7 linked regions of the Homo sapiens genome follow. The protein of the gene in region 4 interacts with the protein of the main gene of each other region in a biochemical or structural test. Each region holds a gene or a part of one and is shown on either strand. Other genes may lie near its edges. The genes, in order: PAQR3, NRIP1, SIRT1, PPARA, CDC34, BCL2 and CEP350.

What was found.
Region 1: the proteins of PPARA (region 4) and PAQR3 form a complex in vitro, tested with the Homo sapiens proteins (one study listed by BioGRID).
Region 2: the proteins of PPARA (region 4) and NRIP1 form a complex in vitro, tested with the Homo sapiens proteins (one study listed by BioGRID).
Region 3: the proteins of PPARA (region 4) and SIRT1 form a complex in vitro, tested with the Homo sapiens proteins (one study listed by BioGRID).
Region 5: the proteins of PPARA (region 4) and CDC34 form a complex in vitro, tested with the Homo sapiens proteins (one study listed by BioGRID).
Region 6: of the proteins of PPARA (region 4) and BCL2, one has a biochemical effect on the other in vitro, tested with the Homo sapiens proteins (one study listed by BioGRID).
Region 7: the proteins of PPARA (region 4) and CEP350 form a complex in vitro, tested with the Homo sapiens proteins (one study listed by BioGRID).

The regions. Positions count from the first base shown.
Region 1 is NC_000004.12:78,929,439-78,932,938, forward strand, and holds part of PAQR3 (progestin and adipoQ receptor family member 3), read right to left. Parts: intron 3,222-3,500; exon of another isoform or gene 3,148-3,221; intron 888-3,147; coding exon 732-887; intron 1-731. UniProt on the Homo sapiens protein: Golgi-scaffold protein which modulates its interactors acitivies by anchoring them to the Golgi apparatus. Functions as a spatial regulator of RAF1 kinase by sequestrating it to the Golgi apparatus.
Region 2 is NC_000021.9:14,967,501-14,971,000, forward strand, and holds part of NRIP1 (nuclear receptor-interacting protein 1), read right to left. Parts: intron 1,027-3,500; 5' UTR 693-1,026; coding exon 1-692. UniProt on the Homo sapiens protein: Modulates transcriptional activation by steroid receptors such as NR3C1, NR3C2 and ESR1. Also modulates transcriptional repression by nuclear hormone receptors.
Region 3 is NC_000010.11:67,901,656-67,905,155, reverse strand, and holds part of SIRT1 (NAD-dependent protein deacetylase sirtuin-1), read right to left. Parts: intron 1-3,500. UniProt on the Homo sapiens protein: NAD-dependent protein deacetylase that links transcriptional regulation directly to intracellular energetics and participates in the coordination of several separated cellular functions such as cell cycle, response to DNA damage, metabolism, apoptosis and autophagy.
Region 4 is NC_000022.11:46,216,526-46,220,025, reverse strand, and holds part of PPARA (peroxisome proliferator-activated receptor alpha), read right to left. Parts: intron 1,764-3,500; coding exon 1,625-1,763; coding exon of another isoform or gene 1,621-1,624; intron 215-1,620; coding exon 12-214; intron 1-11. UniProt on the Homo sapiens protein: Ligand-activated transcription factor. Key regulator of lipid metabolism. Activated by the endogenous ligand 1-palmitoyl-2-oleoyl-sn-glycerol-3-phosphocholine (16:0/18:1-GPC). Activated by oleylethanolamide, a naturally occurring lipid that regulates satiety.
Region 5 is NC_000019.10:534,760-538,259, reverse strand, and holds part of CDC34 (ubiquitin-conjugating enzyme E2 R1), read right to left. Parts: intron 2,424-3,500; coding exon 2,337-2,423; intron 2,018-2,336; coding exon 1,920-2,017; intron 1,248-1,919; coding exon 1,113-1,247; intron 1-1,112. UniProt on the Homo sapiens protein: E2 ubiquitin-conjugating enzyme that accepts ubiquitin from an E1 ubiquitin-activating protein, and catalyzes its covalent attachment to other proteins by an E3 ubiquitin-protein ligase complex. In vitro catalyzes 'Lys-48'-linked polyubiquitination.
Region 6 is NC_000018.10:63,122,846-63,125,307, reverse strand, and holds the end of BCL2 (apoptosis regulator Bcl-2), read left to right. Parts: 3' UTR 1-1,962; downstream 1,963-2,462. UniProt on the Homo sapiens protein: Suppresses apoptosis in a variety of cell systems including factor-dependent lymphohematopoietic and neural cells. Regulates cell death by controlling the mitochondrial membrane permeability. Appears to function in a feedback loop system with caspases.
Region 7 is NC_000001.11:180,094,310-180,097,809, forward strand, and holds part of CEP350 (centrosome-associated protein 350), read left to right. Parts: coding exon 1-307; intron 308-1,213; coding exon 1,214-1,621; intron 1,622-1,728; coding exon 1,729-1,875; intron 1,876-3,500. UniProt on the Homo sapiens protein: Plays an essential role in centriole growth by stabilizing a procentriolar seed composed of at least, SASS6 and CPAP. Required for anchoring microtubules to the centrosomes and for the integrity of the microtubule network.

The sequences.
Region 1 (3,500 bases), on a different chromosome or scaffold from region 4:
GGTGATGAGTTAAGGGTTCTACTCCGTAAGGTTTGGTTGGCCAATATTTTTAGGTCAGGTGCTGTATTATCTGATTACAGTGTTGCAAATGCTGCTTTGCACAAGGCAAAAACTGACTTTTGTGTGAACTTAGTGACAGAAAGCAGAGTTGATCCAGAATTCAGAAAAGACACATCTCACATTTGTTAAAGACACTGACTCCTATCTGGTCTGTCTTACAAGCCTACCCCCAAACATAAGACTGAAGACAGGAAAACATATTTTACAGAAGAATATGGGCTAATAAATTCAGATATATTTTCCTGTATTTTTTTTCACTGAGAGGAGAAAAAAGAAATGGTAAGCAGTAACCAACTTCATAATTTTAACAAGTGTTAATTTTAACTTCAATTCTATAAACACACAAATAAAAGATATATAATGTGCATATCTGAGGAACCACGCAGCCATATAGATTTAGTGAAAACATTAATAATTTAATGTCTACATTAAGTTTCAGAAAATAACTGTATATATATTTTCCAATAGAAAATTAGTAAAGTAAGTATGGAACTGATAACAGATGTTAGAGATGACAGGGCCATTCTGAAAAATAAGTTTATGCTTATACGAGACTCTTCTATTTAGTCTATAAGTTAATTATGTACTTATTCAGAAATTCAAAAGAACCAAGGCAAGAAAACCCAAGACCAATATGAAAGGTCGAATGTAAAATGTTTTCATCTACTTACGTTATTACAATAAAATGCGTAAAATACTCCTGAGACATAGCAGCCCAGTATTCCAATAGAAATTCCTGCATAATCTAATGCCATCCATCTTCGACATGTTTTTTCTGACCGATGGCAGGAAAAAAGATGATAGCCCACAGAGCAAAGCATACAGACCTGTGAAAAATAAAAACAAATTAACAAAGTGACTAAAGAAACTAAAGCAACTTATGCATGATATTCAGGGAAGTAGTTAAGAGGCTAGGCTTTCAATTCAAACATTTATGGGCTTGGATTCTAGCTCTGTGCCTTACATGGCTACTGTAGAGCTCACTCTACATGTAGAGCCATGTAGAGCCATGAGGGAAAGCCTCAGTTCCCTCATGGGTAAAATGTAGATAATAATAATGAAGGAGAAAATTTAAAATAACTATATTACAAAATGAAAATTATAAATAAATAGCACAGTAATGGGAAAGTTATACAATGCAAATGTTTTAAAACTATCATCTGAGGCTTGTTTTGATCCATGAATTAATTTGTTTTTAAAGAGTATTTACTATAGAAGCAATATATAGCCTTAAAAAAATCAAAGAACATAAATATAAGCCCCTCTTACTCAATCTATTCCCCAGAGGTGGCCAGTGATAACATTTTTTATGTGTCTTTCCAGATATTTTCAATACATATGTCAAACACCTGTGATATATTAGTCTATACACATGCACACATTATATATATATATATATATATATATACACACACATTTTAAAATTAAATGAAATCACACTATGCATTCTGTTCCACAATTGGCTTTTTTTCAGTTAAGAATGTTCATGTCTGTATGAGATTCATTGTATAGAGTTTACTTTTAATTTCTAAGGTAAACACAGTTTTATTGCCTTCAAGAAAAAACAGGCTGGTGTAGTAGTGGCTCATGCCTGTAATCCCAGCACTTTGGGAGGCCATGGTGGGAGGATCTCTTGAGCGCAGGAGTTCGAGACCAGCCTGGGCAACATAGGGAGACCTCATTTCTTAAAAAAAAAAAAAAAAAAAAAAAAAAATTGGGCATGGCGGCATGCACCTGTGGTCCCAGCTACTTGGGAGGCTAAGGCAGGAGGATTACTTGAGCTTGGGAGATCGAGGCTGCAGTGAGCCGTGACTGCCCCACTATACCCCAGCCTGGGTGACAGAGCTGTGACTGCCCCACTATACTCCAGCCTAGGTGACAGAGTGAGATCCTGTCTCAAAAAATAATAATAATAATTTAAAAAACAGTGATGACTTGCTAACTTTATATGGTTGCCAAACTGAGAGTAAAGCTAATCTGATTCAATCAGCTGTTCTGATAATTGATAAGGTTCTATGGCAGAATGCCTTTCAGCTATTAAGTACCTGCTGTATGTCATACATTGGAGGTGATACAGAATCACTGAACAAACAGTACAGTAACAAATCCTACTGTACTTCAGTGCACAGCATAATTGGAAAAGGTGGGAGGATATTGACTCTGTGGAGGTACATGTGCATTTGGAGGGTGGGACTGGTGGGAAGAAAAGTATCAGAGAAGGGCTGTTCACCTGAGGCAGATTTTAAAAGTTGGGCTGGCATTCACCAAGGACATAAAAAAAGGTGTGCACATATTTATGGCTGGGGGCAGGGATTAAGGAAAAGCATCATATTCTTTATAATATGATTATGACATTTCCTATACATTAATGGGTTTTAACTTCAATATTATGGGTATGATAAGATACTCCTGAAGATTTTAAGTGCCCCCCAACAGAGGTGTGGACTAGAAGGGCTGAAACAGGAGGTTACAGAAATAGCCCTGGAGAGCAAACACTGAGACAGTGACAGTGGGGTGGAGGCAATGGGACAAATAAACAGTATAAAGTAGTTACAAATGATAAACATTTTGTAAGCTATTGCTAAGGCAGTAACATGGTCATCTAGCTATTAATATTTTATATTCTGGTCATTAAACAAATCTAGTTACTATAGACTCAATATCAGTATTCAATAACAATGTACTTTGCCACAACTTCATTGCTTCATCAATTGTCTAAAATCCTTAATAGTCTATAGCTTTTTGGTTACTAAGCAACCAATCAGTAACTAATTCTAAGTTAGTTATTTAAACGTAACTCAAAGAAGTTTGGTTATTTGTTTTCTCAGATTATCCTTGAGATTAAGCACCATAAATCAGGAGAACATAAAAGTGTATATTTCTCATTGATGGGGAAAGATCCCATTGCCACAATGTTGAATGACACAAGGGCAGGTCGCAAAATAGCAAGCAGAGATGACTGTAGCTTGGAAGTAGGTAGACAGGTAAGGGAGCAGGCAGGTAGGCAGGTGCAAGGTAGCTATGCATACACAAACATACGCATTTGGGTTAAACTCATTGTTTAACGCAAATGTCCAATGTGGTTACCTCTGAAAAGTGGAATTTCAGGTGACGTTTTCTTCCACAAACTTCTGTTTGCCTAAATTTCTACATGATTATATCTTGTAGTAATAATTAGAAACAAACATAAAGCTCATTTCATTGTGAAAAAGAAAATAAAAAGAGGAAAAAAAGAAACTATGGTATCCAAGGGAAAAGTAAAATAGCATTAACAGAAAACCCCAGATTTTAAAGTTAACCCATACCTAGTATGCCCTGTTTAAGAAGGAATATGTTATTCCTAGAGTTTAAAAATGGACTGAAAGATAATCTGGCAAATTGGGTATGTTTCAGTTATAATGGAAAGTTTCCTTCTATGGAGTACCTCACTCCATCAAGGT
Region 2 (3,500 bases), on a different chromosome or scaffold from region 4:
CTCATGACCTTTGTTCCACTTTGTCCAACATGATGAGGAGACTCTGCAAACCTATCTCTGATGAGGTTTTTAGTCACATCAGGAAGATTCGTATCAGGCTTTTGATCTTTAACTTTACTTTTCTTCAACAAAGTTTTTAAGTGACTTGATGCAACACCATAGCACCTTAAATCCTTCTCCACTTTTAAAGAATCATGACTGAGGGCATATCCTTGCTCCTTGAGGCTCTGCCTGATTTGTTGTGACAGAGCAACAGTCTGCAGCCTAGAGCTGAATGACTGAAGCAAAGAGGCCAGTAATGTGCTATCCTGTTTGCCTTTAGGCACACTGTCAACCATGCCAGCTAGCAAAGCTTCCTTCTTTACGTTTAAATTCATGATAGAATCAGACAGCCTCTTCCGCTTTGCTGCATTCCAGTCCTCAGAAGACTGCAACAGTCTGGCTTTTTTGAGGTGCAGCATGCCAGACCCCTGATATGTATGTGTATTGAGAACTGGACCATTACTTTGACAGGTGGGAAATGCACTGCCAGAAATGTTAAAGTTCTGATCCTCTTCATTATGCCCAGCAGACTTTTTGTCAACGGCAGTACCTGATCCCCCTGCTGCCTGATGCATTAGTAATCCTTCTAGGTAAGTTAAAACAATAGAATCCTGGTGCACATCAGAGCCAAGCTCTTCTCCATGAGTCATGTTCAATAGAAGTGTTCACAAGGGCTTGGTTTCTATTCACTTTAAAGAATGGTTTTCTGTGGTGAGTGCGATGTAACTTTAATAAAGGAGTATCAGTTTATCACCTTCCATCGCAATCAGAGAGAGACGTACTGTTACATTCTGTCCAAGATTTCTTCTGGCAATGACAAGATAAATGCAGTCTGACCACAGTGCTGATCAACTTCTACGCAAGGAGGAGGAGAAGAATTCCTTAACACATAGGTCTGTAGCAGTAAGCAGATAGAATCCTTAGTGAATATATTCCTTTTCCTTCTTCATCTTTTGTTCCCCATTAAATGCAAATATCAGTGTTCTAAAAAAAATAAAAATAAGAATAGTTAAGGAGGCAGAACTAGAATCACGTTATGATACCTACAAGCAAAATAATATAGCATCTGTAAATGTATATATATATTACATATAAATAATAGACATATAAATGGATTATAGTCACTTTAGTAATTTGTTTTATTGCCGTTCCTATTCAATTGAAAATGTCTACTGGAAATCCTGTGGGTTAATGCATACTGTTAAAATGATCAAATCATTAGAGAAGAGAACATACTTTAATGTTACATAGCCATCTTCCAAAGCCGCCAAGTCTCTGAATTTTCATAAGCACCTTTCTGCAAAGTAATGTGAATGTTCAGTCTCCTTTATAGCTTTATAGCTCTACAGGGGAACTAGAACTTGCTTCCTTACATTACTGGGCACTTAGGAAGAAACAAAAGTAGATGTGCAGAAAAAGGAAAAGAGATGCAGACTCTGATGAGTCTGATGTGGGGTTGAGGCCAACAGAACAGATTCATTTCTGACATCATCCCCCAAACACCAGACATTCCATAAGTAATTTTTAGAATTTCCGTTTTCAAAAAAATGAAACCACTAACAAGTTGAAGATTATTTTGTGAGTCTGTTCAAAGTGTGACCATCTTAATCATATTCATAAACATTAAAATACAGTCATAAACTTACCTACCCATACTTTTTACCATGACTTATTAAAGACAGAGAGGAGTGATTCTTTAGATGCTTGTTCAGGGCTATCAAGGGTTTAATGTAGTTCGTTAGTAAATCCTTACTCATGTGCTCTATGGAGAAGTCTTAATGTCAGGTCCATTCCTTACAGATACAGAAGACAGGGAGGGCATAAACATATATAAAAAGTACAATGGAGAATGCCAAAGACATTTTAGTCACAGTTTGAAAAATATTCCAATGATATTTATTATCTAAGAAGAGACCAAAAAATTTCCTATCACTAACACATACACAACAGAAGAAGCAAGAACTCATTGCATTTCTGAAAACTTGATAGGTAAGTGTCAAAATTGACCTAAGGAAGGGGGGCCATGACACCTTTGGAAGAGAAGCTGGAATAAATTCCATGCAGTTTGTTTTTCAAGATGCCAGAACATTTTGTTTAAGTTATCAGACCTGAAGCTATCAACAAATACCTTGGTCCCTATGGAATTTAAAAGATAAATTTTAATTGAAAGACTACCCTGTAGCTTTTTAAGTACAATGCTTAACTCTAAGTCAAACTTTAGGAAATAATTATCTGATTGTATCAAATTGTTGAATTTATTGATTAAAAGGATAAGAAATGATAGCCAAAGAAAAAGATACAGAAAGGAGGCAGCAACAATTAATTTCAACTGTGTAAGGAGTAGGATGAGAAGAGACTTTCTTGAGATTCCAATGCCACCATTTTAAGAAGCTTTGCCATAATGTACTTAAGATGGATATTTTAAGAGGTTAATAATGATATAGAAATGAAATGGTTATCATGACTGCCACCAAATATCCATTCTCCCATTTTCATTTACTAATAAAACCCTGACTTGTTTTTCAGGGAGTAGGGAGGTATCCCAGCTAAACACTACTTTTCTCCCCCCTCTGGTTATATTTTACAATTGATGGCATGTTGCTTAATTGGAGGCTTATTTTTCTTTCTTAGTGGTATAAAACATACGGGTACATTTTACAACTGATAACATCTTGGAGTTGAGGAAACCCAGTTTTCTAATTCTCTCAAAAAACTTAATATGGCCAGGTACGGTGGCTCACACCTGTAATCCCAGCAATTTAGGAGGCCGAGGTGGGTGGATCGCCTGAGGTCAGGAGTTTGAGACCAACCTGACCAAAATGGTGAAACCCCATCTCTAGTAAAAATACAAAAATTAGCCGGGTATGGTGGCATGCGCCTGTAGTCCCAGCTACTCAGGAGGCTGAGGCAGAAGAATTGCTTGAACCTGGTAGGCAGAGGTTGCAGTGAGCCGAGATCGTGCCACTGCACTCCAGCCTGGGTGACAGAATGACACTCTATCTCAAAACAAACAAAACAAAAATAACAACTGCTAATATACAATTAATTCTCAACTAGTTAAGACATTTAACAACCATTTAATGGGATATGCAAGTCCACTGTATTTCTCTCCACACCACTGCCAACCTTTTTGCTCTTGGGTAGACTCAAGAAAGTCAAAATCATACCAGTCATTTGAAAACTGGTTTGTAAACAGCCATAAAACATACTTTATTTAAGAATAAGAATGAAATAAGGAGCATCTTTGAGTTCATATTACTCCTGTTATTGCTTTCTACTTTTTACTGTGCATGATATAATTTGCAAAGTATTATTCATTGCTTTAAAAAGACTGAATTTACACATTTCTGAATTTACAAAGCAGATTTGGAAGTTGATTTAAAAAGGAATTATCACAGTTTCCTTGTAAAGGAGCTCTAACACTGTATTTTACCATTTATTTACCTCTCTACCATTTA
Region 3 (3,500 bases), on a different chromosome or scaffold from region 4:
ATGCTAGGCAACAGATAAAATAGGACCTATAATAGTAAGCAAGTGATAATAGCATGCCAAATGCAGAATTTAAAAAATAAAATAACTCCAAAGCAAGGTCAGGGAAAAAGAGCAAGTACCAAGACTCCACCGTCCCTGAATTAACTGTGTGCCTTATCCACGTCCACCCCCACCCTTTCTAAAGGGTAGAGTAAGAAACACAAAGATGTATGGGACACTAGATTTAGCTCTTATTAATTCAACTACCTTTAAGACAAATCATAAGGGACATTTTTGTTTTATTTTATAAGCCTGCTTTTTTTTTTTTTTTTGAGACAGAGTTTCGCTCTTTTTGCCCAGGCTGGAGTGCAATGGCGCGATCTCAGCTCACCACAACCTCCACCTCCCGGGTTCAAGTGATTCTCCTGCCTCAGCTTCCTGAATAGCTGGGATTACAGGCATGTGCCACCACCCCAGCTAATTTTGTATTTTTAGTAGAGACGGGGTTTCTCCATGTTGGTCAGGCTGGTCTTGAACTCCTGACCTCAGGTGATCCGCCCACCTTGGTCTCACAAAGTGCTGGGATTACAGGCGTGAGCCACTGCACCCGGCCAAGCGTACGTTTTACATATGTGAGAATCTGAATGATTTGAGTCTTTGACTCATACTTTCTGTCAAGTATGAAATGGGCCATGTCTGAATTATTAGATTTAAATATAGTGTTCAAACTAAAAGTAGTAGTACAGGTGTGGTGGCTCACACCTCTAATCCCAGCACTTTGGAAGGCCGAGGCGGGCAGGTTACTTGAGACCAGGAGTACGAGACCAGCCTGGGCAACATGGAGAAACCCTGACTCTACAAAAAACACAAAAATCACAAAAATTAGCTGGGCCTCACGGTTCATGCCTGTAGTCCCAGAAACTCAGAAGGCTGAGGTGGGAGGATCACCTGAGCCCAGGGAGGTAGAGGTTCCAGTGAGCTATGATCGTATCACTGCTCTCCAGCCTGGGTGACAGAGTGAGAGCCTTTAAAAAAAAAAAAAAAAAAAACAAACAAAAAAAACTAAAAAATCTGAAATAATGAAAAAAATTACTCTGGAAGGACTGTTCTAATATACCACTCCTCCTAAGATAGGACCACTTGTTGAAAACCAATGACTGGAGATACAACTTACAGATAGAATATGGATTAACTCTTCCATGGTGAAAGTGTGACATGCTTAGTCCTATTCCAAACAAGACAGGCCACCCAGTTTGAATATCCTAAAGCCTTTTTAAGCAACCAATCATGAGGGCTGGGCCATTCTGTTGCTGCCATAGGGATCCTTATAGACCAAGAGTGGAAGCAGAACTGGAATCAAAGGCTCAAAACACTATTAAAACAAACCCTGCTTTCACATAGCTGTGTCTGGAAACATGCAAATAATCCAGGAATTGGCCATAGGCAACCAACGTGGTCAAAACTAAAGCTTAGAACTATCCGCAGAAATTGGCCGGATGTGGTGGCTCATGCCTGTAATCCCAGCACTTTGGGTGGCCGAGGTCGGCGGATCACAAGGTCAGAAGATCGAGACCATCCTGGCTAAGATGGTGAAACCCCGTCTCTACTAAAAAATACAAAAAAAAATTAGCTGGGCATGGTGGCGGGTGCCTGTAGTCCCACTACTCGGGAGGCTAAGGCAGGAGAATGGCGTGAACCCAGGAGGTGGAGCTTGTAGTGAGCCTAGATCACACCACTGCACTCCAGCCTGGGTGACAAAGAAAGACTCCATCTCAAAAAAAAAAAGAACTATCTGCAGAAATAATGGCTTTTCTGCAGAGATTATGCCTTTCTTTCTTCTCCAAATTTCTAGCAATATGAATAAAAGACCCTAGAGTAAAAGGCATAGGTGTAAATGCAGTCCCTCAAGACTAAGAAAGCTGGGCATGGTGGCACAGGCCTGTAGTTCCTGCTACTGGGGAGACAGAGGAGGGAGAATCACTTGAGTCTGGGAGTTAGGGAGCTGTAGTACTCTATGATCGTGCCAATGGATGGGCACTACACTCCAGCCCGCACAACATAACAAAATTCACACCCACCTTTTTTTTTGAGAGTCTCGCTCTGTCACCCAGGATGGAGTGCAATGGCACAATCTCGGCTCACTGCAACCTCCACCTCTCCTGGGTTTAGGCAATTCTCCCACCTCAGCCTCCCAAGGAGCTGGGACTACAGGTGCGCGCCACCACATTCAGCTAATTTGTTTTTAGTAGAGACAGGGTTTCACCATGTTGGCCAGGCTGGTCTCAAACTCCAGACCTCAGGTGATCCACCTGCCTTGGCCTCCCAAAGTGCTTAGGATTACAGGTGTGAGCCACTGTGCCCAGCCAAAATTCCCTCTTTAAAAATCAGAATTTTTAGAGAATTCATCAAAATTTACTGATGTTAATCTTTGCTGATATCCACCCCCTCCTATATATAGTTCAGATGGAGGCAGTTAAGTAGAGTTGCTGAGAAAATAGAACCTAAACTTTCCTTCCTGTCAAAAAAAGTGAAATGCATCAATCCTGCTAAGGAGAGTCCTCATAATCCCTCCTGTCTCTTTCATTCCACAAAACCACACTTGAATAAACTGCTCAACATCTTAATCAATACTAATAAATTGGTCATATGACAAATTCAACTGTATTTCAATATATAAATAGTATGGCTATGTTCTAATAAAAGTTTGTATTTATGAACACTGACATGAAAATTTTATATAATGTTCAAGTGTCATGAAACAGTTCTTTCAATTTTTTCCCCAGTCATTTAAAATTAATTATTAGCAGGGGGTGGAGGTGGGATTGGGAAGACGCTGGGAAGAATAAGTTCAGGAGATCTATTGCTGACTATAATTAAGAACATATTGTAGCCGGGCGCGGTGGCTCACGCCTGTAATCCCAGCACTTTGGGAGGCTGAGGCAGGCGGATCACCTGAGGTCAGGAGTTTGAGACCAGCCTGGCCAACATGGTGAAACCCTGTCTTTACTAAAAATACAATAACTAGCCGGGCGTGGAGACAGGCGCCTGTAATCCCAGCTACTTGGGAGGCTGAGGCAGGAGAATCGCTTGTACCTGGGAGGCGGAGGTTGCAGTGAGCCAAGATAGCGCCACTGCACTCCAGCCTGGGGACAAGAGCGAGACTTCGTCTCAAAACAAAAACAAAAACAAAAACAAATATTGTATACCTGAAAATTATTAAGAGTACATTTTAAATGTTCTCACCACCAAAAAAAAGTATGTGAAGTAATGAATATTAGCTTGAGTTAGCCATTCCATAATGTACACACATCAAAACATCATGTTGTACACCACATAAACTTTATTTGTTGATTTAAGTAATAAATTAATGCTTAATGCTTAGCTCACAGCCTATACAAAAACATGGAGTGGGCCACATTTGGACTGAGGCCATAGTACGCCAACCCCTGTATTAACCTAACACAAGAGAATGTCAATTAGTTAAACTGCCAGTCGCCACTTAATAAATTTTAGTATGTACC
Region 4 (3,500 bases):
CAAACACCTACTGGATTGTTACTGGCCTTTCCTGAGAGGATGACCCGGGCTTTGACCTTGTTCATGTTGAAGTTCTTCAAGTAGGCCTCGTAGATTCTCTTGGCCAGAGATTTGAGATCTGCAGTTTCAGAATCTTCTATGTCATGTTCACAGGTAAGAATTTCTGCTTTCAGTTTTGCTTTCTCAGATCTTGGCATTCGTCCAAAACGAATCGCTAGGGTTTGGAGGGGGAAACACAGGCATGAGCAGTGAGGTCATGACTGCGCGGACAGGGCTGGACGAGGGGCTCCCCCAGGACTTTAAACCAGGAATGAAAATTCACAGGCAGTTCAGACCCATCCTTCATTACTATTCGGCTTTCCACTATGGAGAGATGAAAAACTCAAACTCCATACACTGTAGATGTTTAAACAGGTGCAGGCTGAAGGTGACACCATCGTTAACAGGTGCAGGCTGAAGGTGACACCATCGTTCGTCTCATTAGTAGGGTGCACACCACTATCAGGTGCATCATCAACCTTTGAGTGAAGGAGGTGAACGGGGCTTCGGGATGAGTTTATATAATAACTGCTTCTTTTTCCAGAAGGTAGACATGCAACTCTTATGAACGACTTACATTCACATCACAATTAGCATGTTCTGAAACTATTAAATGATTGGCTAGAAGGAAATTCATAACGTGGTGAGATGTTTGAGGTGGTACACCCTTCCTATGGACGAGGTGAACATTCTGTCATTTTGGTGCCTTCCACTTGGTTTTTCGATTCTGTATCAAAGTCTTACCACTGAAGTTTCTAACAGCGAGTCCAATGCACCACTGAATCTCAGCTATTTGAGACTTTTTCTTTTTTTTTCTTTTTTTTTGAGACGGAGTCGCACTCTGTCGCCCAGGCTGGAGTGCAGTGGTGCGATCTCAGCTCACTGCAACCTCCGCCTCCCGGGTTCAAGCTATTCTCCTGTCTCATCCTCCCAAGTAGCTGGGATTACAGGTGTGCACTACCATGCCCAGCTAATTTTTGTATTTTTATTAGAGACGGGGTTTTGCCATGTTCGCCAGGCTGGTCTCAAACTCCTGACCTCAAGTGATCCACCCGCCTCGGCCTCCAAAGTGCTGGGATTACAGGTGTGAACCACCGCACCTGGGAGACTTTTATTTTCTTTCTTTCTTTCTTTTTCTTTTTTTTTTTTTTGTGAGACGGAATCTCCCTCTGTCGCCCAGGCTGGAGTGCAGTGGCGCAATCTCAGCTCACTGCAACCTCCGCCTCCCGGGTTCAAGCGATTCTTCTGCCTCAGCCTCCCGAGTAGCTGGGACTACAGGCATGTGCCACCACACCCAGCTAATTTTTGCATTCTTAGTAGAGACGGGGTTTCACCATATTGGCCAGGCTGGTCTCAAACTCCTGACCTGAGGTGATCCACCCACCTCAGCCTCCCAAAGTGCTGGGATTACAGGCGTGAACCACCGCGCCTGGGCGACTTTTATTTTCTTAGGCCACTCTGATTACAAAATGACTTGGGTGTGAAATGTTGAAGCACATTCATCCATAGCTTGATCTGTTCCCTTGGAGCAAGGAAGGGGAACTGAGGAACGAACTGGGAAAATGTGCAGGGCCACCTTACCTACCGTTGTGTGACATCCCGACAGAAAGGCACTTGTGAAATCGACAATACTGGCATTTGTTTCTGTTCTTTTTCTGGATCTTGCAGCTGCGGTCGCACTTGTCATACACCAGCTTGAGTCGAATCGTTCGCCGAAAGAAGCCCTGTGAGGGTAATACACAGTGGATTTAAAGACCTGGGCCACTGAGAAACCAGCGCACTTGCTTTACTCACCTTTTTTGTTGCTCATTTATTGTTTCTTTTTAAATGAACAAAATTTAGAGAAAAGTTATTCCAGGCCAGGCATGGTGATCATGCCTGTAATCCCAGCACTTTAGGAGGCTGAGGCGGGTGGATCACCTGAGGTCAGGAGTTCGAGACCAGCCTAGCCAACATGGTGCAACCCTGTCTCTACTAAAAATACAAAAATTAGCCGGGCATGGTGATGTAAGTCTGTAGTCCCAGCTACTCAGGAGGCTGAGGTAGGACAATCACTTGAACCCAGGAGGCGGAGGTTGCAGTGAGCTGAGATTGTGCCACTGCACTCCAGCCTGCGCGACAGAGTGAGACTCCATCTCAAAAAAAAAAAAAAAAAAAAAAAAAAAAAGAAAGAAATAGTTCTTCTAAGAAGTCTGGAATGATTAGGACAAATACAGAACTTTAAATGTCGTTACATTTAATGTGAAAAACAATAAAATGAGGCAGCATTCGAAGTCATTTCAAAATGCCCTCATCTGACTTGGGAAAACACAATTATAGTTTTCCAAAGAGTTACTCAGCCTTGTTACAATGTATATGAATGTAACTATCCCCAGCATTGTGACATTTCCATATTTGTGACTAAAGACTTTCTAAGAATTTTTGTAAGAGTATATTAACTCCCTCAAAGACAAAAATTATAATAAAAGGAAGCCAGCTGTTTGTAAACAATTTTCTTGCTTTGTAAAAGCATCTTAAACTCTACCCAGCAAGAAACAATGTTACTAAATAGTCCATAAAAAACAAAACTAAATGAATAATTAATCATGGCCCTAAGGAAAAGGCCACTTTATAAGGAGCTTTTTCAAAGGTATATGGTTAGAAAACATGCGAAGGAGTTCATTTTTGCTTTGGGTTCTTTTTTCTCTTTGCTTTTAAGTCATTCTTCTATATTTTTGCCACAGTGGGTCTGCTTGGCCCGCGGGAGAGGGACAGCAGTGTGCAGGGGAATGTGAGAGGCAGGCTGACGTCTTCATAATGTCCTTACCTAGGCTTGCACAGTGGGGAGGCTGAGGAACGCATGGGGTTAGAATGGGAAGGGTGGGGAGACAGGCTTCTAGACAGCAGAGTGCCACAGTGTCCTGGCTGTGAGGTTCTCCCTGTGGCCCAGGCCTCTGAGGCCAGGCCTGGCTCAGGGCAGAATGCTGGTGTTCCAAGATGGTACATTGTGCCAGAAAGGCGGTGGCATTTTCCAAGTTAGTGAACACCTGCAGCGTGCACCGTGAGAAGGGATTTCTGATTCAAACCAAACATTCAGATGATGATCTCCCACATATCACGTACATAAGGCGCCAGACTTGAGCACGTCTGTGCAACCCTAAAGGGACGCTGCTACAGGAGCTCTCCTCATCACCACGCTGACAAACACGGAAGGGCCACCAGTCCAGCTGGCAGCATGCAGGACAACAGGGCCTGCCTTCATGCACTCCTGGCCCAGGTCACATCTGTTTAGGGCAGGCTGAGCCAGCAGGAGGATGAAGATGCACAGGGGGTTCCTGTCGCTTGAATCAGGTGGAGAAGCCCCTGATGTGCAGGAAGGAACTGCTGGGGAGCAGGAGCAGCCAGTCTCTGGTTCCAGTCCCTGCTGCTGGGGGCTGTGGGACCCTAAGCAAGATACTCTGTGTCTCTGATGGCCAATTTCC
Region 5 (3,500 bases), on a different chromosome or scaffold from region 4:
ACCAGGCCAAGAGCCTGCAGGGACGCACTCCAGACATGAGTAAGGCCAACACCCCTGACTAACAGTCAGTCACTGGGCACACACAGCACGACCCCATTTTTTCATTAAAGCACAGACACATGTTCCCTAACAGTCAGTCACTGGGCACACACAGCACGACCCCATTTCTTCATTAAGGCACAGACACATGTTCCCTAACAGTCAGTCACTGGGCACACACAGCACGACCCCATTTCTTCATTAAAGCACAGACATGCGTTAAACTGAAAAGCCTGGAAGAATCTATGAAAACACTAACCACCAGGCCAGGTGCAGTGGCTCACGCCTGTCATCCCAGCACTTTGGGAGGCCGAGGCGGGTGGATCACCTGAGGTCAGGAGTTTGAGACCAGCCTGGCTAAGATGGTGAAATCCCACCTCTACTAAAAATTACAAAAATTAGCTCGGCGTGGTAGTGGGCACCTGTAATCCCAGCTGCTTGGCAGGATGAAGGGGGAGAACTGCTCCAACCCGAGTAGTGGAGGCTGCAGTGAGCCGAGATCGCACCACTGCACTGCAGCCTAGGCAAGAGAGTATAACTCTGTCTCCAAAAAAAAAAAAAAAAAAAAAGGCCGGCCGCGGTGGCTCACGCCTGTAATCCCTGCACTTTGGGAGGCCGAGGCAGATGGATCACGAGGTCAGGAGATCGAGACCATCCTGGCTAACACGCTGAAACCCCGTCTCTACTAAAAATACAAAAAATTAGCCGGGCGTGGTGACGGGCGCCTGTAGTCCCAGCTACTTGGGAGGCTGAGGCAGGAGAATGGCGTGAACCCGGGAGGCGGAGCTTGCAGTGAGCCGAGATCGCGCCACTGCACTCCAGCCTGGGTGACAGAGAGAGACTCTGTCTCAAACAAAAAAAAAGAGGAAAAGGGGCAAGAAGCTGGGCTTGAACCTGGCTGGACCCTCCGCCACTCGGCCCGGCCTCCATCTGTGACTGGCACCCTGTAAATGGGCACCAGGAAGCTCCGCCACCCTCACCAGGAAGGTGGGGCTGGGCGGCCGTGGGACCAGGGGCCGGGGTGCAGGCCGGATCTGAGTCTCTCCTCCCGTGACGCCCCCGCCCGCCCTCACCGGATGATGTCTGTGTACTCCCGATCCTTCCCCTTGCTCTCTTTCCACTTCCTGTACATCACGGAGGCGTCCACGTTTGCGGGCGAGAAGGTGTTGGGCTCGTTCAGGAGGGAGATCACACTCAGGAGAATGGTCCTGTGGGGAGAGTGGGTCGGAGTGGGGCGGCCCGGGGCACCCCAGCCTTCCGGCTCTTCTCTGGCCCTGAGGGTCACGGGGACGCCTGGACCCACCCAGCAGGTGACCTTCACCTGGCCTCATGGCCTCTGCTTCTGTCTCAGGCCCCCAGAACAGCAGGGGCTGGACCTGCATCAGTCTCCTCCCTCCCACGCCAAGACCAGGGAGGGCAGCAAGGTGCAGACCCCTCCGTCAGACCCGGGGCTGCCCTCACACCCGCACGTCCTGCCTAGACTACACTCCAGGACACACGGGCAACACGGCCCAGTGCTTGTACCTGGGGACGAGGCCCAGGCGGCACACGTGGCACGAGGTGACCAACCCAGAGACGGCTGGGTAAGGAGAAGGCCCCAGGACTGAGGATGGCGGGACACCTCTAGGTGGTTCCAGACGGTGGGGCCGGCCTGGGGTCCTGGTGGGAGTCTGCACCGACACACGGTGCCGCAGGCCCCGTGAAAGCACCTACCGTGCAGGTACAGCGAGGCCCAGGACCGCCAGCTGGCAGGTCCCGAATCAGGCCTTGGCGCCACAGCCTGTGGGGGAGCCCGGCCTACCTGATGGTCTGGGTGGATACGGGACGGAGCCCGGCCTACCTGATGTTCTGGGTGGACACAGGGGGTTGGGCCGGCTTACCTGACGTTCTGCGTGGGGTTCCACCTCTCTGAGGGCAGCTCCCCGCTCTGGGGGTCGTCCACCGGCGGGTGGAGGATGGAGATACACACGTCCCCCGTCTGCACAAGAAGAAGACAGGTCAGAACAGGTCAGAGGTCAGCACGGGCTCCCAGTGCCCCAGGTCCCGGAGGATGAGGACGTGGAGGACGAGGACGTGAGGCTCCCAGCGCCCCGGGTCCCGGAAGGACGAGGACATGAGGCTCCCAGCGCCTCGGGTCCCGGAAGGACGAGGACGTGAGGCTCCCAGCGCCCCGGGTCCCGGAGGACGAGGACGTGAGGCTCCCAGCGCCCCGGGTCCCGGAAGGATGAGGACGTGAGGCTCCCAGCACCCTGGGTCCCGGAGGATGAGGACTTGAGGCCCGTGGGGGCCGCGCTCACCTCGTAGATGTTAGGGTGCCACATCTTGGTCAGGAACCGAAAGGCTGGTGGAGAGTATGGGTAGTCGATGGGGAACTTGAGGCGCGCCTGCAGGGGCAGAAGGCAGGTGGCTCAGTCCAGCCCAGCCCCAAGACCTGCCCCAGCTCACAAGGTGCCCAAGGCCATCCCACTCCCAGTGCTGGTGCCTGAGGGTGTGTGTGAGGGACACCGTATCCTGCCCAAGGCAGGGACTCTCACAGGCCTGGGGTCAAGTCCCCAGAAGGCTGCCTGAAGCCTTTTCTGAGTCACCCGAGCTGATCCCAGCTCCTACACAGTCCAGGTGGCCGGGACCCGGCCCAGCACAACTGCTGGGGAACGTGGGCACTGGCTGCCCGCGTGGCTCCAGGCCCGTGGCAGCCCAGGTCAGGCATATGGGACCCAGGCCAGGGGCACCCACCAGCAGACAGAATGGACTGGCAGGGGCTCCAGGCTCCCCTTGGATGGAGCTGAAGCCCAGGACCAGGGCTGCACCTCCAGGGCCTTGGCAGCCAGGGTGTGGGGAGGGTTAGCACAGATGATTGCTCAGTTAGCAAACACTTGTGACACCTGCCCTGGCCCAGGCCGTGGGAGGGGATGAGTCAGTATGGCCGTCTGCCCTCAGGTGTCCGGTCTTGGGGGGTCAGGCAGGCAGACCCATAGGTCACAGAAACCTGGCAGGACTCCTTCCCTGTCAGCATCGCCCCCTGTGGTCACCCAGGCCCTGGAGGTCCAGATCTGCTGGCAAGGACGGCCACAGAGGGAGGCCTGAAGCCACGTGCCAGGTGACAGAGCTGTCTGGCCTGCAGCCTGGGGCGTGATGCCACCCACGGCCCTCCTGGGCCACAGCAGGTAAACAAGGAAGCCTCACTGTTTTCCTGCTGGGCCCCAGTGCCAGACACAGAGGTTGTCTGGGTCAGGGGTCCTGGTGGCACTCAGCACTCCAAGGCACGAGAGCAGCACCCCCAGAGCGATCGTGGTGGAAGCCTGGACAGGGAGGGCACTCAGGGGGTCTTGGATCGTGGGCGAGGTCTGGACAGGGAGGGCACTCAGGGGGTCTTGGATCGTGGGCGAGGTCTGGACAGGGAGGGCACTCGGGGGTCTTGGATCATGGGCGAGGTCTGGACAGGGAGGGCACTCGGGGGTCTT
Region 6 (2,462 bases), on a different chromosome or scaffold from region 4:
TAAAGTCACAGAATTAAGGAAGCACCTCAATTTAGTTCAAACAAGACGCCAACATTCTCTCCACAGCTCACTTACCTCTCTGTGTTCAGATGTGGCCTTCCATTTATATGTGATCTTTGTTTTATTAGTAAATGCTTATCATCTAAAGATGTAGCTCTGGCCCAGTGGGAAAAATTAGGAAGTGATTATAAATCGAGAGGAGTTATAATAATCAAGATTAAATGTAAATAATCAGGGCAATCCCAACACATGTCTAGCTTTCACCTCCAGGATCTATTGAGTGAACAGAATTGCAAATAGTCTCTATTTGTAATTGAACTTATCCTAAAACAAATAGTTTATAAATGTGAACTTAAACTCTAATTAATTCCAACTGTACTTTTAAGGCAGTGGCTGTTTTTAGACTTTCTTATCACTTATAGTTAGTAATGTACACCTACTCTATCAGAGAAAAACAGGAAAGGCTCGAAATACAAGCCATTCTAAGGAAATTAGGGAGTCAGTTGAAATTCTATTCTGATCTTATTCTGTGGTGTCTTTTGCAGCCCAGACAAATGTGGTTACACACTTTTTAAGAAATACAATTCTACATTGTCAAGCTTATGAAGGTTCCAATCAGATCTTTATTGTTATTCAATTTGGATCTTTCAGGGATTTTTTTTTTAAATTATTATGGGACAAAGGACATTTGTTGGAGGGGTGGGAGGGAGGAAGAATTTTTAAATGTAAAACATTCCCAAGTTTGGATCAGGGAGTTGGAAGTTTTCAGAATAACCAGAACTAAGGGTATGAAGGACCTGTATTGGGGTCGATGTGATGCCTCTGCGAAGAACCTTGTGTGACAAATGAGAAACATTTTGAAGTTTGTGGTACGACCTTTAGATTCCAGAGACATCAGCATGGCTCAAAGTGCAGCTCCGTTTGGCAGTGCAATGGTATAAATTTCAAGCTGGATATGTCTAATGGGTATTTAAACAATAAATGTGCAGTTTTAACTAACAGGATATTTAATGACAACCTTCTGGTTGGTAGGGACATCTGTTTCTAAATGTTTATTATGTACAATACAGAAAAAAATTTTATAAAATTAAGCAATGTGAAACTGAATTGGAGAGTGATAATACAAGTCCTTTAGTCTTACCCAGTGAATCATTCTGTTCCATGTCTTTGGACAACCATGACCTTGGACAATCATGAAATATGCATCTCACTGGATGCAAAGAAAATCAGATGGAGCATGAATGGTACTGTACCGGTTCATCTGGACTGCCCCAGAAAAATAACTTCAAGCAAACATCCTATCAACAACAAGGTTGTTCTGCATACCAAGCTGAGCACAGAAGATGGGAACACTGGTGGAGGATGGAAAGGCTCGCTCAATCAAGAAAATTCTGAGACTATTAATAAATAAGACTGTAGTGTAGATACTGAGTAAATCCATGCACCTAAACCTTTTGGAAAATCTGCCGTGGGCCCTCCAGATAGCTCATTTCATTAAGTTTTTCCCTCCAAGGTAGAATTTGCAAGAGTGACAGTGGATTGCATTTCTTTTGGGGAAGCTTTCTTTTGGTGGTTTTGTTTATTATACCTTCTTAAGTTTTCAACCAAGGTTTGCTTTTGTTTTGAGTTACTGGGGTTATTTTTGTTTTAAATAAAAATAAGTGTACAATAAGTGTTTTTGTATTGAAAGCTTTTGTTATCAAGATTTTCATACTTTTACCTTCCATGGCTCTTTTTAAGATTGATACTTTTAAGAGGTGGCTGATATTCTGCAACACTGTACACATAAAAAATACGGTAAGGATACTTTACATGGTTAAGGTAAAGTAAGTCTCCAGTTGGCCACCATTAGCTATAATGGCACTTTGTTTGTGTTGTTGGAAAAAGTCACATTGCCATTAAACTTTCCTTGTCTGTCTAGTTAATATTGTGAAGAAAAATAAAGTACAGTGTGAGATACTGGTTGTGCCTGGAATTGTTTATAATGTGTTAACATGATTTTGCCCTGCCATTCATCATCATTACACAAGACTTTGAAAAGCCTTCTTAACAAGCCAGTAAAATCACCAGGACCCTACTCTAATGAAGCCCTCAGGGACCAGGCTAAGGGATTGCCTTACAGGTGAAACCACCTTAGAAGGAGACTCTTGTTTCTTGGTAATAACCCTCCTGGTTAGGTACAAGATAGACCAGTCTTGAGTTCTACTCCCTGGGAGAGCTACTGTTGCTGTTGAGTGTGTTCTTCCATATAGACCAGAGATCCCAGCCTCTGCATTTTATAAGATGAAATGTGTATGAAAAAGAGGGAAATAAGCTGAAAGTTCTGTTTTGAAGTCAACATTTTTAGATGGAACCAAAGCAGCTACTTGCTTTGGAGCAGGTGAACCCTAAATGGCAAGGGATCTGATGTTTCCCACTGGGTTCAGGTCCTGATACCCTAATCCTCAACCCTTCAAGTCACA
Region 7 (3,500 bases), on a different chromosome or scaffold from region 4:
GTCATCACTAAATGAGGAAAAAAAGTCAAAACAACAACTGGAAAAAATCAGCTTACTGACAGACAGTTTACTAAAAGTCTTTGTAAAGGACACAGTCAATCAACTACAACAAATCAAAAAAACCAGGGATGAGAAAATCCAGCTTAGCAATCAGGAGCTTCTTGGTGATGACCAAAAGAAAGTAACACCCCAAGACCTATCCCAAAATGTTGAGGAACAGTCGCCAAGTATTTCAGGTTGCTTCTTAAGTTCTGAATTGGAAGATGAAAAAGAAGAGATTTCCTCTCCAGATATGTGTCCCAGACCGGTGAGTATTTCGTCTAGAAAAAGTATCAGTATACCTTTTGACACTTTTAACAAGGCAACTTACCTTGCCTATATAGTACATTTTAATTCTGTGACTCCTGATAGGTTTTTTTTCCCTTGACGTGTTGTTTATTAGAGAAGGATCACTGTACTGGTTTTTAAAGGCCTTGTAGCTGTTTTTCCTGGCTGAAGTGTAATTGTCCTCTATTATGTCATGAGTAGTCAATATAGGGTTGTCACAAGCACTGGCAGGTTTTGGGGAACTAAAACATCCATTTAAACTGCTGAGTTGACAACCCCTGTACTGTCCATAGATTACATCTCCTTCCAGATTCACTGAACAAATTCGTTCCATGGAGCTTTCCAGTGGCTCACCACCCAATTCTTTTTTGCCTGTGAAATTGTTTACATATCTACTCAGTCATGGTTGGCCTGCAGAGGTTAGCAGTTGTGATGTTGATTCTGGTAAAATGAAATAGATCCACTATGACATGCACTCAGACCATCAGCTTGTTTATGTTGCCCATGGACAGTTGAGCAAAAGTAATGACTTTGAGTAACTTGAGCCAGATGGTCACCAGAGGTGAGAAATTTTATATCCCATTTCCATATCCCATAGACAGTTCTTTAGAAACAGAATAATGATAATACAAAAAGCGGGGAGAGCCCTAATCAATAAACATTTTATAAAAATTCAGTTATATGCAAGGTTTATATAAGTAGAATTGAGGGAACAGGATAACTTTTTCTTAGATTGTTTATTAGTAGCCACCATATTGTTTTTTATTCTGCTTACTTATAGAGAAATATTAGATATATAAATAATGCATTTACTCTGTCTTTTTTTAAAAAAAAATGATATGAGGTCCCTAAATGGTGCTCTGTTTGAATGGTTCCATTTCTATAGGAGAGCCCAGTATTTGGTGCCAGTGGGCAGGAAGAACTTGCTAAGAGACTTGCTGAACTTGAACTCAGCCGGGAGTTCCTGAGCGCGTTAGGAGATGATCAAGACTGGTTTGATGAAGACTTTGGTTTGAGCTCTTCTCACAAGATCCAAAAAAATAAGGCAGAAGAAACCATTGTACCTCTAATGGCAGAACCTAAAAGAGTAACCCAACAACCATGTGAAACATTATTGGCAGTCCCCCATACTGCAGAAGAAGTAGAGATTCTTGTACATAATGCAGCAGAAGAACTTTGGAAATGGAAAGAATTAGGCCACGATCTTCATAGCATCAGTATTCCTACAAAACTGCTTGGCTGTGCCAGTAAAGGTCTAGATATAGAAAGCACTAGTAAAAGGGTCTACAAACAGGTAGGTGAAATAAAAGGATAATTTTAGTTTTTAAACTTTTCTCCCATTGTCTGAAATTTGGATTCTTAGCCATTTTGTTTTGTTTTGTTTTGTTTTTCTCTATCAAGGCGGTTTTTGATTTAACAAAAGAGATTTTTGAGGAAATATTTGCTGAGGATCCCAACTTAAATCAACCTGTCTGGATGAAGCCATGTAGAATCAACTCTAGTTATTTCCGACGAGTGAAAAATCCAAATAACCTTGATGAAATCAAGGTAAACTGCAAACTATAAAGTGTCTTCTTTTTTGACTTGCTGTTCATTTACACATATCTGTAAATGTTGTAAAAGCAGGTGCTCTTCTGTATGATTAACCTTTGTGTCTTCAGGACCTGTTCCATAGTGGGTATTCAATAAAGATTTGTTGACTTACTGAATCCATGAACAGTGGAGGGATTGGAATGAGTGAAAGGGCTGAATCCTCAAGTTTGTGCAAAAAAAAAAAAAAATTCTTTTACCAGTCATTTTCTCTATATACATAATTATAATATTTAAGAAAAATTAGGAAATACCTAGGGAGATAAATTATTGCAACTAATAGGAGTTTTAGGTAAGTTTTGGGGGCTTTAGAGATAGGTATAATGTTCTAAAAGTACATATGAATACGTGTCATATATATGTCTTTTCAATATGCCAGCCCTGGACACATAGGTGTTAACTTCTTTATCTTTGACTTTGGAGGTTTCAAATTGGTAATGTGGTTTTGAACTATGTAGGATAGTAATGTGATACGTAAAAATATTTATTTTGTTATCTAAGAAACCTTTGTAAACCTTTGTCCAGAAGCTACAAGGACTATGAACTTTAAAGTCACATTGCTGGCAATCTGCTCTGCCTAGTCACATGTTTCTTTACGGCAAAGGTTATATTTCCAGAGCAGTGATTCTCAACTTTTAATGTGCATGTGAATGATCTGAGGATCTTGTTGAAATGGAGATTCTGATTTAGTAGGTCTGGAGTAGGACCTGAAATTCTGCATTTCCAACAAGCTCTCAAGTCATGCTGGTCCTGCTGGTCCTGCTGGTCCTGCTGGTCCCAGGACCACGCTGAGTAGCAAAGCTTTAAACTTGTATTTCCCAAACTTATTTGATCACAGAAAGCCTTTAAAAATATTTTATACTTATAGAACACCAACAGATATTTATGAGATGGGATGTATGCTTACCTCAGGGGTTGGCAAACTATGGCCCATAAGCCAAATCCAGGCCCCTGTATGTTTTTATAAATAAAGTTTTGTTGGACCACAGCCATACCTAGTTGTTTACATGTTACAACTACATGTAACTACAACAGTGGAATTGAATAGTTGTGACAAAGACCACATGGCCCGCAAAGCCTAAAATATTTACAGTCTGATTTTTTACAGAAAAAATTGGCCATCCCCTGGCTTAAAGTAACTAGCTTTTTAAAAACACATTGTATACTCCATTCCTTCTACCCTTTCACAATTGAAAATGCTTGAATGCTATGTGTGTCTGTGAACAGGTAGGGAGTGATGGAATTTCCGGGCACGTTGGTACTTTGAGAATCTTTCCAGGTGATTCTGATTCATAAATGTGTCCCTTCCCCTGTTAAGAACATTGTTTTTTTAACAGAACAACCATAAAAGTAACAAAATAAATTATTAATAACATTAAGTTGAGGTAAGACAAGATATATAATATATACCAACAATCAAACTACATGCATCAATATAGCATACAATAAATGCCCACTAATTTTAATATTGACATAACATTTTGTAAAGTTTTTAAGGGTGATAGTTCAAATATTGTTAGTAGTAAAATTATTATGCTTCTCATACTGAAGTGTTGATATTTTTTAATTTAACATATTTGAGT